Linked DNA regions of Homo sapiens: region 2 is linked to region 1. A link means that fine-mapping ties the variant in region 1 to the expression of a gene that starts in the linked region. Tissue or cell type: whole blood. Region 1 holds a variant in brackets; the other region holds the start of a gene. All regions are shown on one strand. Distances are between the middles of the regions.

What was found. PIP is the estimated chance that this variant, and not a neighbour inherited with it, causes the effect.
Region 2: it holds the start of PHF21A, and the variant in region 1 is fine-mapped to the expression of PHF21A in whole blood (INTERVAL, PIP 0.96).

What each region holds. Positions count from the first base shown.
Region 1 is chr11:45,972,002-45,980,001 of GRCh38, forward strand. PHF21A (PHD finger protein 21A) reads right to left here. Exons shown (of 19, transcript NM_001352027.3): 7 at 7,759-7,965. Among named protein-coding and RNA genes, the nearest start is that of LARGE2, 53 kb to the left of the region's middle. The variant T/TAAAACAAAACAAAAC (reference allele first, on the strand shown) is at 3,376.
Region 2 is chr11:46,117,140-46,125,282 of GRCh38, forward strand. PHF21A (PHD finger protein 21A) reads right to left here and starts at 4,315. Exons shown (of 19, transcript NM_001352027.3): 1 at 3,796-4,315. LOC105376661 (a long non-coding RNA gene) reads left to right here and starts at 5,006. Exons shown (of 3, transcript XR_931252.4): 1 at 5,006-8,143. RefSeq lists silencers at 2,374-2,531, 2,715-2,774, 2,845-2,924, 4,338-4,397, 4,838-5,147.

The DNA.
Region 1 (8,000 bases):
CAGATAATGAAACATGTTAGCCAATGAGTATATAGTAAATACCAGTTCTTGATACTAAAGGGATATTATGAGTTACTACCTATAATCTTTTCTCTGGAGAACTGCTGCAGAAGTGATCAAAGATGCAATGAAACATGACAAGGTGAAAACAAACATCTGAGTTTTAAAAGCCTGAGAGATCAGAAGATGAACTGAGGTGAGAGGACTTGACTGATGCTCCTTAAGTGCTATTGCAGCTTTGAAGCTGTACTTTTCTAGACTTTTTACTAGAATAATTAAAGGAATCAGTTACAAAACAAACAAAAAAATATAAACAAACTCATTATATGGCCTAAACATCTATCTGGAGATAGATCAACATTTCAGGAACATGAAAATTTATCTGGTCAAACTCATTGATTCTGATTTTGATACTACTCCACCTTTACTGTATATTTGCACTGTCTGATTTGGCAGCCACTAGCCACAAGTTGCTATTTAAAAGGAAATTAATTGGCCAGGCGCAGTGGCTCACACATGTAATCCCAGCACTTTGGGAAACCGAGGCAGGTGGATCGTCTGAGGTCAGGAGTTCGAGACTAGCCTGGTCAACATGGCGAAAGCCCGTCTCTACTAAGAATACAAAAAGTAGACCAGGTGCGGTGGCTCGTGCCTGTAATCCCAGCACTTTGGGAGGCCGATGCGGGTGGATTGCCTGAGGTCAGGAGTTCGAGACCAGCCTGGCCAACATGGTGAAACCCCATCTCTACTAAAAATACAAAAATCAGCCAGGCCTGGTGGCAGGCACCTGTAATCCCAGCTACTCGGGAGGCTGAGGCAAGAGAATTGCTTGAACCCGGGAGGCGGAGGTTGCAGTGAGCAGAAATTGTGCCACTGCACTCAGCCTGGTGAGAGAGCGAGTCTCCGTCTCAAAAACAAAAAAAAAAATTAGCCAGGTGTGGTGGCAGGCGCCTGTAATCCCAGCTACTCGGGAGGCTGAGGCAGGGGAATCACTTGAACCCGTGAGGCAGAGGCTGCAGTGAGCCGAGATCACACCATTGCACTCCAGCCTGGGCGACAAGAGTGAGACTTCGTCTCAAAAAAAAATAAATAAATAAAAATAAAAACTAAATTAATTAAATGTAATTAATTAAAACAAAAACAAAATTAAAACATCAGCTCCTCAGTTGCACTAGCCACATTTCAAATGTCAAAAGTCGCATGTGGTTAGTGGTGACCAAACTGGACAGTGGAGATAGACGGTATTTCCAACATCACAGAAAGTTCTATCACTGTGCAATACCAGTGAAAAGTACCTCCATTCTCTCAGAAACACATCTGGACAACTTCCCTTATGAATTTCTATTTCAGTGTCTATGCTTTTCTACTTAGGGGTATTAAGTTGTTTGCTTCTAGGGAGTTACTTATCTCTATTTTTCTGCCTTATGCGCATATACACATATTATCTAATCTTTTAAGATCATCATCCAAATCTTTGTTTCCTCTTCGCTAAGTGGCTTATTCTCTTTGCCATTGCCTCCTTAAATGTGAAATGAGAGTAAACGCGGAACACTGATATTTATTTTGGGGTGCAGTGGATCACCTATCTTCGATCAGTGATGAAAACCAAATAAAAGCCAAATGCTATTTATTATTAGAAATGGTATATTAATAGTAGTGTAACAGCAAGGACTGACTGCATTATCAGCAATTTGTAGTAAGTGTTTTTACCACAGTGTATTAGCCCTTGTTTTCCATTTAAAACATGTCGATTTAAAGAACTTCTGAAGTGGTGATCCAGTCACACCAGATGGCGTTCAATCCAGTGCTATCGTGGATTGTGGGAGTAAAGCTCTAGTCAGAACTCACTGACATGGATTTTAAAGAAACGCATGTTGTTACTGCTTTAAGAGAAGTCAATGTACTTTTGTTTCAAGTAAATCATCAATATTTTGAATAACTCTAAACTGATGATTCTACAAAATACTGACTAAAGCCTCAAACTCACCTGAATTATATACTTACCATTAACCCAACACTTTAAAAACACTGAAACCTAACAAGTTTGTTCACATCTTAGGTTAGCAGTTTTCTTTTATTTTACAACTATGGTTATGGCTGATTTCACTACATGATTTCTAGCATCTACATACCTGTTTGTCTAGTATACAGGCACAAGACCTAGTACTGTATGCTTCAGTGAAAACTTTTTGAAGAATATATTTACTATTTATTGACACCAAGACCCAGGTAGTGCTTAGATCTTTACCCCTACTCTGGTGCTTCTTCTTTCCCAAGTATTAGGGAACACAAACCAAACTCCTGGGTTTAGATGACAAAAGGAATTTAGAACTTTGAAATCCAAGTCTAATTAAAATGTCTGAACTGTTCTGGAAGGAGGAAGAAGAGACATAGAGAAGAAAGGTGTCAAACGACAAATTATTATTATTATTATTATTATTATTATTATTATTGCTGTTTATTTATTTTTGAGACAGGGTCTTGCTCTGTCACCCAGGCTAGAGTGCAGTGGCGTAATCACAGCTCACTGCAGCCTTGACCTCCTGGGCTCAAGTAATCCTCCCATCTCATTCTCCTGAGTACCTTGGACTAAAGGCAGGTGCTACCACACCTGGCTAATTTTTTTTATTTTTAGTAGAGACGTGATCTCGCTATGTTGCCCAGGCTGGTCTAGAACTCGCTCTCACGTAATCCTCCCACATCGGCCTCCCAAAGTGTTGGGATTACAGGCATGAGCCACCACACCCAACCAAGAGATTTATTTATATGAAAGCTGTGATTTGTTTTTAGCTAGTTAACAGTGTCTAAGTATGATCACCTTTAAGAGAAGGTAGCTGTTTCTCCACAGTTTCATGATGGGGTCCTTTATTTTGACAAAACCCAAATTGCATGAGCTAGAAGTTAATGCAGAAATACATGGCATGGCAAATACTGCCAATAGCAAAATCCTTTTTATTTATTTATTTATTTGCTAAGTCATTGTTGTCTGCCTGCCAAATATGAAGTATTGATTTAAAACAGATGGACTCAGGCTGGACACAGTGGGTCATGCCTATAATCCCAGCACTTTGGGAGGCTAAGGTGGGCGGATCACTTAAGCCTAGGAGTTTGAGACCAGCCTTGGCAACATAGTGAAACTCCACCTCTACAAAAAATACAAAAATTAGTTGGGCATGGTGACACACACCTGTAGTCCCAACTACTTGAGAGGCTGAGGTGGAAGGATCACCTAAGCCTGGGAGGTCAAGGCTGAGGTGAACCGTAATTGCACCATTGCACTCCAGCCTAGGTGACACAGTGAGACCCTGTCTCAAAGAAAACAAAATAAAATAAAATAAAATAAAATAAAATAAAATAAAATAAAATAAAATAAAA[T/TAAAACAAAACAAAAC]AAAACAAAACAAAATAAAATAAAACAGATGAACTCCAATATACAAATCAGAATTTAAGGGATTATTACTATGGGATCTAACTTCCACATCTGTTTTATATTATTTTGCTGGTTTAATTTTGAATGCAGTCATGATGTATACTCAAACAACCACAAATAGAAACTTTTCCCTTTTTTGTCTCCAAAGGTTTGTTTTCCATTTGGTTTTATTAACTGCTTTCTTCTTTACATTTGCATTATGCCATTAAAAATTAGAGGGCTGTGAATATAGGTTGGAGAGTATACCTGTATTTAACTGTTCTATTCTTTCACTTTTTCTGTAGATTGGAAAACTTTTAAAATACACCTATAAGCATGAGTTGACGTTAACTAAGTAAAGCAAACTGTTCCCATTCCCTCTCCCAAAAAGAATTCCTCATTGCTTTCTCTACGCCTTGGTATATGCCAATCACCCGACTTAGAATAAAAAACTTTCTCCTCTTAGCATCTCCCCCTGGCCCCCCGATTGCTACTTAATATTTAATTCTTTCTGAAGTTGTGTATTTAATATATGCCATATATAACCTCCCATTCGTCCTTGCCCTCATACATTAAATATATGTATTTAATATATGCCATATATAACCTCCCATTTGTCCTTGCCTTAGACTTCCCTATGACTGTTAAAAAACCCAGAAGCTCTGGCATGCTTTGGAGGGCTTGGCCTTATCTCCTCTCCATCGTTTCGTGGATCACACACTCCAACCACACCAGCCTACTTACGATTCCCAGGGCATACATTTACTATTTTGACGCCATCCTTTTGTTCATACTACTCTCTATACTTGTGAAGCTCTTTCCCCTTTGCTCTATCACTAAAATCCCATTCATCTGACAGGGCCCTGCTCAGATGCAACCCTCCTTGACAAGTACTTTCTGATCCCTCTAGTCAAAATTACTCTGTCCTCAAAATTTCTCTACATCTTAAATTTTTTTAATTCTTGAAAATAGAAACTCTCTGATTTGTGAATTTAGTCTCCACATTACCTAGAACAGTGCTTGCACACAGTAGGAACTCCACAAATATTTACAGAATGAATAAAAATTATTAATAATGATATACCAGACTTTTGGCAGGGACCACTGCTCTTTGTATACCAGAATCTACCACATAGATTGGTAGTACCAATAAATAGGTTAGTAGTGCCAAGCGCAGTGGCTCATGTCTGTAATCCCAACACTGTGGGAGACCGAGATGGGTGGATCACTTGAGCTCCGGAGTTTGAGACCAGCCTGGCAAACATGGTGAAACCCTGTTTCTACAAAAAATACAAAAATTAGCTGGGCATGGTGGCCTGTGCCTGTAGTCCCAGCTACCCGGGAGGCTGAGGTGGGAGGATGGCTTGGGGCAGGGGTTTCAGTGAGCTGAGATTGTGCCACTGCACTCCAGCCTGGGTCAAAGAGCCAGATCCTGTCTAAAAAACAAACAAACAAACACCAAAAACCAGATTTGTAGTTTACCTGTAAACTCAAAAACCAAAAACTCAGAGGATCCTTTTGGTTTTTAACATTAAACATTTGCATCATTTGCATTAAATAAAACAATATTTAAAAAAGGTTGGCAAAATCAATTAAATATGTCAGGTGGGCTACTGGATGGAGAGGTGCTATACAACACTGTTTTGGAGGCAGCCCTGGGCCTCTTACCATTCACCATCCCAAAGCAACACAGACTACCAGGGAAAGGAAAAGCTATTATATTTTGGAAATGCTTCCTTTGATTTTTTTTTTTTTTTTTTTTTGAGATGGAGTCTTGCTCTGTCGCCCAGCATGGAGTGCAGTACGATCTCGGCTCACTGGAACCTCTGTTGCCCGGGTTCAAGTGATTCTCATGCCTAAGCCTCCTGAGGAGCTGGGATTACAGGTATATGTTACCACGCATGGCTAATTTTTGTATTTTTAGTAGAGATGGAGTTTTGCCATGTTGGCCAGGCTGGTCTCAAACTCCTGACCTAAAGTGATCCACCCACCTCGGCCTCCCAAAGTGTTGGGATTACAGGCGTGTGCCACTGTGCCTAGCCTCCTTTGATTTTTATAACATAAAATGTTACTTGAACAGGATGTTTCCATGGGTTAAGACAGAAAACTCCTATGTAACAGGAAACAATGAATTCTACCACACTCCTTTCAGATAAACATTTTCTGATCAACCTGTACTTTGGAAAGAGAACAACCTAACCCAATTCTGTTTAAAACTTAAACAAAAATTATCCTCTAAACATTCTTTCAGAACTAATACAAGTGCTGGTAAGGAGATTTTTAAAGTCAGTTTTGAATGCCTAATTTCCAAATAGCCTTGGGGTGGTGATTAGGGTAAAAATTTATGTAGGCTGTCCTAGCTATCTGATTTACAACAGGGATTTTTCTTTTTCCTTCTTTGGTTTTATACAGTATTGGTATTGCTTTTTTCTTTTTTTTCTTCTTCTTCTTTTTTTTTTTTTGGTATTGAATGGCAGTACAGAAGAGTAGTTGAATGGACCTATTTTTCAGCCAGAACATCTAGGTTCAAATCTTAGCTACACCACATACCACCCTCCATGATCTTAGGTAAATTATGTAACCTCTCTGTGCCTTAGTTTTCTCTTCTAAAAAACAGAGATGGTGGGCCGGTTGCGGTGGCTCACACCTGTAATCCTAGCACTTTGGGAGGCCGAGGCGGGCAGACCACGAGGTCAGGAGTTCGAGACCAGCCTGGCCAATATGGTAAAACCCTGTCTCTACTAAAAATACAAAAATTAGCCGGGCATGGTGGCACGCGCCTGTAGTCCCAGCTACTCAGGAGGCTGAGGCAGAAGAATTGTTTGAACCCAAGACGGTGGAGGTTGCAGTGAGCCAAGACTGCGCCACTGCACTCCAGCCTGGGTGACACAGTGAGACTCCGTCTCAAAAAAACAATAACAAAAAAACAAACAAACAAAAAAACAGAGATGGTAATAATAATAACTTCCTCTTAGGATTAGGGTGAGGAGTATGTCCATTATGTAAAACACTTAGGAGACTGCCAGTATACAGTAACCTCTATTAAATGTTAACTTATCTTTAGTGTTCTTATAAAAAATTCATTCTTTACTTGCAAAATGTTGCACATGAACCAGTCCAATGTCCATAAACAGTGAACAGCCAACTGAACTATACTCTTTTTCTCTCTATATAAAGACACAGTGAAGACCTGGTGTTGGTTGTAAGAGGTATCCACGCTTAGGTTTCAGAGGATCCCAAAGTCCTTGAAGTGTGCAAAAATGAGTGTATTAAGTGTGAATGTATATTCTTCTGGAGAGGGATCTATAGCTTTCAACAGAGTCATAAAGGGATCTGTGACCTTCAAGGATCCAAGTATCATTTGGAATATCATTTCCAAATACGCCCTTTTTGTGTATCTTGATTGCCTCACGATTCTTAAATTGTATGCTTGTTTAAATGCCCTTTTTGGTAAAAACATTTGCACAGCTACACCAAGTTAGAATTTTATTAAGCTCCCATTTCTTTAGTTTTGACCTGTAGCTTTCATTTCAGATTCCCATCAGTGTATTAGAACAAATACATTTTCTTATAAATATGGGCTTAAAAATGAGTGTTTCTATGAATAGTGCAAATATAGCACTCTTCTTTTTTTTTTTTTGAGACGGAGTTTTGCTCTGTTGCCCAGGCTGGAGTGCAGTGGTGTGATCTCAGCCCACTGCAGCCTCTGCCTCCTGGGTTCAAGTGATTCTCCTGCCTCAGCCTGCCGAGTAGCTGGGATTACAGGCGCCTGCTACCAGGCCTGGCTAATTTTTTTGTATTTTTAGTAGAAATGAAGTTTCACCACGTTGGCCAGGCTGGTCTCAAACTCCTGACCTCAAGTGATCTGCCCACCTCAGCCTCCCAAAGTGCTGGGATTACAGGCATGAGCTACTGAGCCCAGCCATAGCACCCTTCCAAATGCTTCTTTCTATCTGGTCCCAAGAGCACTGATCCTGGAATAGCTCTATGCCTAGTTGCTAAGAATTCCAGAAGAGGTCAAGTCACAAACTTTTAGAACAAGTGTAAATAAATACCTCCAAAAATTCAAAATAAGGTTTTAATTCTGCTGTAAAGCAGATAATTGATTTTTGTTATTGACTACCTTTCTCCCCTTCTTCAGACAGGTGGGAAATCATTTAATTTTTGCTTCTTAGTAATGTTATTTCCTTCTGCCAATGATTACAAGTGATACTTATCTGGGTTATACTGTAAAAAAGCAATCAAAATAACTTTTGTTTAGTTCTAGCTGAGCTTAGTATAGTGTGAGACAGGACCCAGTTCTATATGACCAACAACAAATCAGTCTACAATCTGCAGCCTGCAATGTTCCATCCACACATTTACCTGTGAAGCAGTCAGGTTGGGAGAGGCTGCAGCTGACTGCTGGGCGTGGTGGTGGTGGTACTGCTGCTGTTGTTGTAGTTGCTGTAGTGGTTGCTGCTGTGCTGTTTGTAGTTTGTTTTCAGATTGTGGCAATGGCTGTATTTGGAACTTGTCCGGTTGTTCTTGCTTTACTATCAGGTTCTTCCGTAGCTGTTCAACTACTCTTTTCTACCAAATGAAGACAAAAAGAAATAAAAGATATT
Region 2 (8,143 bases), 150 kb after region 1:
ACTTTTATATGTATTATCTCATTTGGTCTTACTGAGAAAACAGTATTTTGCCTACAAAATAGACAAAATTCAAAGCAGATTTATCAAACTTTCTAGCATCCCCAAATTTTTAAAACTTCGACACAAAACTTTACAAGCAACCACAGTGGCATGATATTTTCAGTGATAATCAATTCACCTAACACTAACAGAGTTTCAAAGGACCATGTGCTATAAATGCTATGAAACTGTTAAAGTAGCTATATTCATCTTTATGCAGTTACTGTTACATCAACAATGACCTACCACTGATACAACTTGACTTACAGTTCAAGAATCTCAGTCTTTGCAGGCTAACTTAAGTACATCAACCATATGTATTTATAAAGCCGAGTGCCTAAAAATTGATCTATATTAGAATCATAGTCTGTAAATCCGAGGGGAAAAAACTACAAGAAGTCTAAAATTTTTTCAACACACTATACCCCTTTCCAAAATCTCAACTACTCTATATCCTATTTGTATTAATATTATAGGGATGATAACAAGGCTTAAAGCCCTAAATCATACCAACTACTTTTGTTTATAACAATTACAAATAATTTTTTAAAATACATGCTCAACATCCCACTCATCAACACAAGACTAATTCCCCTTCCAAATAAAATAATTCTAAACAGTGCTCTGTACCAAGGGCCAGAATCCTTATACTATCCGCAATCGCACATCTACTTTGTACAGTCAAAGACTTCACTTTCAAGTAGCAAACATTATTTATGAATGGAATTTTTAAATGGACTTACTCAAAATCTTTCTGGAACTTTAAGGTGTTAATCCTGTTGCTTAGCTGAAGCTAAGCAGAGCTGTAATAAGTAGCAAGACCCTCAAAATTCAAAAATTTCCTTTATCTTGCTGTAGCACCTCCTGCTGGATAGCATTTAGAGATCTTCATGTAAGCAGAAGAAGAGTATTTCAGAGGCAGCTCCTTCCAGAAGACTGAATAGGAAAAAGGATGGACCCTTCAAAGCTAAAAGAAATAGGCCCCATCCATCACTTATACCTTCTAAAAATACAATTTAGCCCAGGTAGGTGTCTTTTTCATCTATTACTACTCCAGTTCCACAAAGACTTGCCTCAGTCCAAAATACAACATGCTTAAATAAAGCCTGCAAAATTGTCTAAAAACTAAGTTAAAAAGCATTCAATAGCACCCAAGCAAAACACTTTATTATGGGCAGCCAAGCAATGTCAGTCAAACTGTAAATACTATTATGTTACCAAAAGCAAAAGTCTGATGTTAAAAAAAAAAAAAAAAAAGCCCCTGGAATATTCGTAACATGTTAGCCAGATGTTTGTGTTTTGAGAACTTTGTGCACTATTACTATGCTCTTCACTTAAGGATAGTTGTACATCTACAAACGTTTTAAGTACAGAAATTTTTTTATAAACATTAGCATAACTGTACACAAAATTTCCTCTTTGCCATGAAAAGATAGGTCCTGGGATTTGAAAATGTATTTTTCAGACATTTTTAATGACCCCCTAAAATAAACTAGTTTTAAGCCCACAACACCGATTCCATAAACAAGTAAAGACAGAAGAAGAGAATAAGAAGGAACTTACCAAAATTAAAATGAATAATAGTATTTCCAGTAAAAATGTAGTAACAGTTTCCAACAATGCTGTAAACCAAATAAATTGTGAAACTTAAAAAAGGAAGGAGGGGGCCAGTCTTCAAAGACCAAAAGCAAAGCTGACCTATTTATTTCTATTGCTTAGAGTGAACACCAGATGTAAACAAATATCATAAACACTGAAAAGTACGCTTACATGGTTTAGCCTCAATTTCAGTACCCTTACCAGGCCCTCAATAAAGCTACAGATGTTGGTGAGAACTCGCTCAAAAAGGAGATAATTCCAGCCCCTCGCCTTAAAGAATCCCTATCAAGTGAACCTGTGAAAAGACTTCCTTCCCAGAGTGCACAACTGCTTTAAAAAAAAAAAACTTTCATCAGCCCAAATTAATCTGATTCTAATATTCAACTATCCATTATTTATATATAAATGTTCTTCCCTCTCTAACTTTCCCAGCTCGAGCATCTACATTCCTGACACCGACTATTAGCAAAAATGCACAACTCCTTCCCCAGCTATGGGGCAAATCTTTGAAATCTGAAACACAGCCACAAAGTTCACTGTCAAGGCCAGGTGATGAGGCCCACACATGCCCGGACCTTCACTCAGATTTGAAATTCTAGAAATCCAGACTCCCAGAGACATCATTTTAAAAACAACACAATGTGGACGTGCAGAGTGAGATCCTCTACTTCCAGACCTAAACAAAGAATATTTCAACATATGACCGGAATATGATGACACCAGATTCACCAATGAAAACAAAACCTGCCGACCATTAGCAGTCGTACCCTCATCACAACAACTCAACTACTTAGAAATCACTCTCGGCACATCTGCACCCGACAACCGGCCTGTGGCCTTCTCCGGGGGTGCAAGCCACAGACAAAGTTGAAAGAAGGCGTTCTCCTCCGGTGCCCAATCTCGATACCAACCCCTCCCCTACCAGGGCCACCTTGCTGCTACCCACCATCGCGAACGTGGTCAGGGGAAAAAAAAAAAAAAGAAATCCTAACAGCACCGCTCAGCAGAATAAAGAGACCAAAGAGAGGATGACGAGAAGTGTTGGGAACTGCGTGCACGACGGGGCTGGACCAAACGGAAAGAGTCCCACTCCGCGCGCCCCTCCCCCCGGCGGGGGCGCGGGCGGGGGAGGGGCGGCCGCGGCCCCTCTCGGAGCGGCCTGTCCGCCCCGGCCCGCTCGGGGTCCCGGGGGCGCCCCGCGGCCGCCGGCGGCGGGGGCGAATGCGGGAGGGCCGGCCCCGGGGTGAGGGGTGCAGGCAGACTCTCCGGAATAACAAGTTGCAGAAGAAGAAGAATAAGCGGAATTTCCCCAACGCTGCTCCGGCCACCCAAGACAAATGCACCAACACACTCACACTCACACACACACAAACACACACACTGGGGCCCGGCAGCGTCAGCAGCCGCAGCTTTTTTTTTTTTAAACCAGATCCCTCAGTCAACAAACAAGATGGTTTTCCAAAAAAAAATTTTTTTTAATTAAATAAATAATCATAATAAAAACTTCCCCCCGACAGCATCCCGGGGTGGGGTGGGGGGGATGGAGGAGCCCCAGCTACCTCCCCGGCCGAGGGACAGCCGAGGGGGGGCGGGCGAGGCTCCGTGCCCCCCGCCCCCGCCCGCAGCCCCCGGCCGGCCCCCCGCCGGGACAATGTGACGCCCCCTCCCCGCCGCCCCCGGCACGCCGCCTCTGTCACCGGCTCCGGCCCTGCACTCTGCGCCCAGGCTTCCGAGGCTGCTCATAAACTTACTTCCAATTTATCCTGGGGAGGGGTGGAGGGCAGAGGGGAGGGGGGGGAGCCAAGGTTTTCCCATTGTCTTTTTTTTCGGGGGGGAGGTATGGGAAGGGCACGCAGGGGGGCGCCCCGAAGGGGAAGTTATTGCTCAAATCTCAAGTTGACTGAGGGGTCCTGACGAGAACACCCCCCTTTCCCTCCTCCCTCCCACACACCCCTCCCCTCCCCCTACCTCCCCCCACAACAAACTCCAAGCAGGCAGCCCCTGATCCTCCCAGAGACAAACACCAGCGACAAGACAGAGGGAGAGAGGAGAGAGGCAGAGGGGGAAGGGGGAGGGAGGGGAAATAGAGCTACTCCAGAAAAAAAGAGAGAGAGGAGAGTGAGAAGAAGAGAGAATGGAAAAGCTGGGATACTGCACCCTCCTGCTGCTGGCTGGCTGTCCCCCCTGGCAGCTGGAGGCAGGAACTCTGAGCAGGAGAAGCAGGAGGAGGAGGAGGAGGGAACTCTTCTTCATGGGGAGGGAGGGAAGAAGCTGGAGCTGCTGCTGCTGCTTCTGCTGCTGCTCTGGGCCTCTCGCACTTTTTAGATATTAGTGTGTTAAGATGGTAGGTTGTTCCCTTCTCCCTCCTCCTCCTCCTCCTCTCCTCTCCTCTCTCTCTCACTCACTCTCTCTCTCTCTCTCTCTCTGGGCTGTTTCTTTCCTCCTCTTCCCCAGGCAAGGGGGGGTGGGGAGGAGGGGGTTGGGGGGAGGAACTGGATCCTCCTCCTCCTCCAGGAGGGACACACACAGGCCCCGGGCCGGAATCGGGAGGGGGGAATCAGAGCAGCAGGAGAGAAACTGTAGGAGACAAACAAGCCCAACTCTTCATCCTCCTCCTCCTCTCAGCAGCAGCAGCGAGCACCACCAGCCCATTCACCACCCGGCCCCGGGCCGCAGCACCTCCGCCGCCTCAGCCCGGGGATCCCTCCGCCCAGGCCCAGACACACTCGCCCGCGCGGGAGCCCGCCGCGCGGCCCCGCCGGCCCGCCGCCGCCGCCGCCGTGCGCGCCCCCGCCGCTCCCGAGAGCCGGGCGAGAGGGACTGGGGCTGGGAAAGCGGGGACGAGGGCGAGGGGAGAGGAGGCGCCGGGGGAGAGCGGGCCGCGGCGGGGAGGGAGGGGGCCGCCGGGCGGAGTGGTACGGCGGCCGGCCCGGGCCCCCGCGCCTCGGCCCGCGGCTCCCGGGACGCTCGGGTCCCCCCACCGGGGGCGGTGGGGCGTCGGCGGGGGGGGCGACGGGGGCCCGCGGCGGCGCTCGGGCGGGCGGACTACTTGACGTGTCGGTGCGGCGAATTTATTTCACTTTGCCTAAGGAACGGGGTGTGCTGCGGCACCCATTGCCTAGGGAAAAAACCCGGATGTAAAGTGAGTGAAACTAAACTAGAGTGAAGTAGGGCAGCGGCAGCCAAACTCCAGTGCAGCGGCGGCGGCGGCGGCGGTGATGGGGCCGAGCACCGAGCGGCGGCGAAGGCAGCCAAACTCCGGGGCCCGTGCAGCGCCGCAGCTCGGCTCCCGTGCAGCCGCAGCCGAGGCGAGGCCGGAGCCCGCGGCGGCCCCCCCAACTCCGCGGCCCGAGCCCAACTCCCCCCTCCCGCCGGCGGGAGCTGCAAAGGGGCTCCAGAGCGGCCCCAACTCCCTCCAGTGCAACAGCAGTTTGAAGGGGGGGGGGGAAAGCCGTGAGGGGCAGGAGCGAGGAGAAGTGATGGGGAAGCACTGCAATGGGGGAGCGTGGTCCAGGCAACAGGAGAAAGATGCAACCTCAAGTCGAATGCAACATGCAATCCCCGGCCGCCGCTCGCCCGCTCCCTCCCCTCGCCACCCCGCCCCCTTTCCAAATAACTACCCTTGAACCACTTTATTAGCAGTACTTAGTCCAGCACTCGCTCCCGGGAGGGGCGGGGGACGGGGGCCTTCGCTCACCTTTATTTATTGCTGCTTTCTCCCCCCTCTCCATGTTTTTTATTCCTAAGTTCTTTTGTTCTAAGGGGGATGATGGCATTTACTTTTCTGCTTTGTGTAGCAGGGCAATCACTGGGAATCGGCCACGTATAATCCGGCGGTTTGTCATATTTTATTAGTGAAAGTATTTTATGCCTATTCTACCTCCAAGGACTGTAACATGGAGAATTGCAGGGAGGAGAAAAACATCAGAAGAATTCTTGTTTTGAGAGATTTCTTGGCGGGGCGGGGGAGGGCCTTTTTTTTTTTTTTTGGAGGGGGTTTATTTAGATTTTCGAATCGATAGTTTTCAACTTGAAGCTTAACGTTTTTGTATGGATGTATTACCGGATTCTAAACCCCCAACCACAATAAATTTTTTAAAAGTAAAAAATCTTAGATTAAAAAAAACCCCTACTGGACAGTGATATTATCTGATCTGTGCAGCACTCTGGACTTAACATAGTGTTGGCCTTCGAATGTTAAATAACAATAAACCCCAACCTCAACTGAATACAAATGGGGGGGTGGGGGGTTTTGTTTTTAAAGCTCAGCACTTTTGTAGCAACTGCCACTACGCATTTTCCAGGCATTGATTAGCCATGCAACTCCCATAGGCATGAAATCCAGTTTTTGCAGATAAAGAGCAACAGTGGTGAGATGATTTGCCCAAAGTCAAAGTGAGTCATTCGCAGAACCAGAAATAGCCTTGGACTTTACTAGTCACATCTTTTCCATTAAATAATATTTCTATTACCTTGTTATGTATTTTCACAAGAGGTGCTTTGAGATCATTGGATATGAAGGTATTTTTTTACTTTCGTGACCTGCAAAATTAAGTTTAGTTTCTCAAGAAAAAGCAATTTTTAAAAATTCTGATTTCTTAAAAAATAAAATATGGACTTTATGGTACATGTGTAGGCCATTTAGTAGTCTGAGCTTTATGTTAAAAAAAATTCACAGCAGCGAAAGTGTAAGAGTTTGAGAGTGAAAATGAAAATTCCTATAAATGATTCAAGAAGCCTAGATGAACTCATAATGTTGTGAAACTAAACCCATAACGCAGTCAAGATGAATAACGGGAGGACAGGTTGGGTAGTAAGACCCAGCTTTACCATCTAGAGCTAACTGTAATGTATTTAAAATGAGGGAGGGGGTCTTTCAAGCTGGACCCACTGGCCAGTCACTGGAACTATAACCTAATGGTGTGATTTCAAATCATCCCAGGCTATCAACCTTTTTTCATAGGAAGACTGCTTTGGTGTTCTTTCTGGAAAAAGAAGGTAAAATTTTTTTTGGAATTTCATAGAAAAAAATCCAGAACCTCTAATTGTATCATGCTATAGAACTGGGGTTAGCAAACTTTTTCTGTAAAAGCCCAGATAGTAAATATCGTAGATTTTGCATCCCATACAGTCCCTGTCACAACTTCTCCACTCTATGCTGTTATAACCCAAAAGCATCTATACGACAACATGTAAATGAATGAATCTGGCTATGTTCTAATACAATTTGTATTTATAGGCCTTGACATTTGGATTTAATGTACTTTTCACATGTCTTGAAATATTCTTTTGATTTTTTTCAGTCATTAAGAAAAATTTTTTAAAAAGCACCACATTCCCAGTTTGGGGACTTCACAAAACCAGGCAGTGAGCTGGATGGGGCCCACGGGCTGTCATTTACCAATCCTTGCTATAAAAAAAGACTTAAGGTGGACTAACCACTGAACTTGTACCAAAGGGTGCTTGGTTATTAAGATGTGTGGTAGCAACCAAAAATCAATGTTATGCAAAGTCATTGTCTAGATATTTAATTAAAATATTTTTAGCTGAATATAAGAGTGTCTAACACTCCTGTAACTACCAAACTTAATGGAAAAAAAATACTCTGGAAGTATTGCTCCTTCAACTAAGGCACTTTGGGGCAGGCTGCTTAATCTCTGTTAACAGCCTCAGTTTTCCTATCTTGTAAATTGCAGCTTAGAATACCTACTTCCAGCCCCGGGCAAGGTGTTGCATGCCTGTAATCCCAGCACTTCGGGAGACCGAGGCTGGCGGATCCCTTGAGCTCAGGTGTTCAAGACCAGCCTGGTCAACATGGTGAAACCCTATCTCTACAAAATGTGCAAAAATTAGCTGGGCATGGTGCCACGCACCTGTAGTCCCTGCTACTCTGGAGACTGATGTGGGAGGATCACTTGAGCCCAAGGGGTTGAGGCTGCAGTAAGCTGAGATTGCTCCACTGCACTCCAGCTGGGTGACAGAGTGAGGCCCTGTCTCAAAAACAACAACAAAAACCCTACTAAGTAGGGCTCTCGAGAAGACTGAATAAAATAATTCATGTAACGTGCTTAGCACAGTCCTGGCACATAGAACTGTATAATGCATTTTCACTGTGCCCTTAAATTCATTTTCTTAGTTAACATAACTCAAGAAGGTGAACAGGTGGCATCCCAGTATTTTGATGGTGCAGATGTGCATGTGGGATTCAGGGACTCTCGTGTTGATTGAAGATTGTGAGGTTGGCATTATAAGCTTTGGTGGGTCTTTCTCAAGCTCTCAGCATCTCTGTGTGCTTGACACAGGCACTCTGTGGGCACACACTAGCTCTGTGGCCTTATACAAAATACCTAGGCTTTCTGAACCCTGGTGTTCCTTAAACATAAAGATAATACCTTGTGAGATTGTTGTAAGGGCTAAATGGCTTAAGTGTTAAAGGAAAAAAGATAACAATTAGTATGTTAGCAGAAATTCCAGAAATAAGCTAGAAATTGAAAGTTTACTGTCA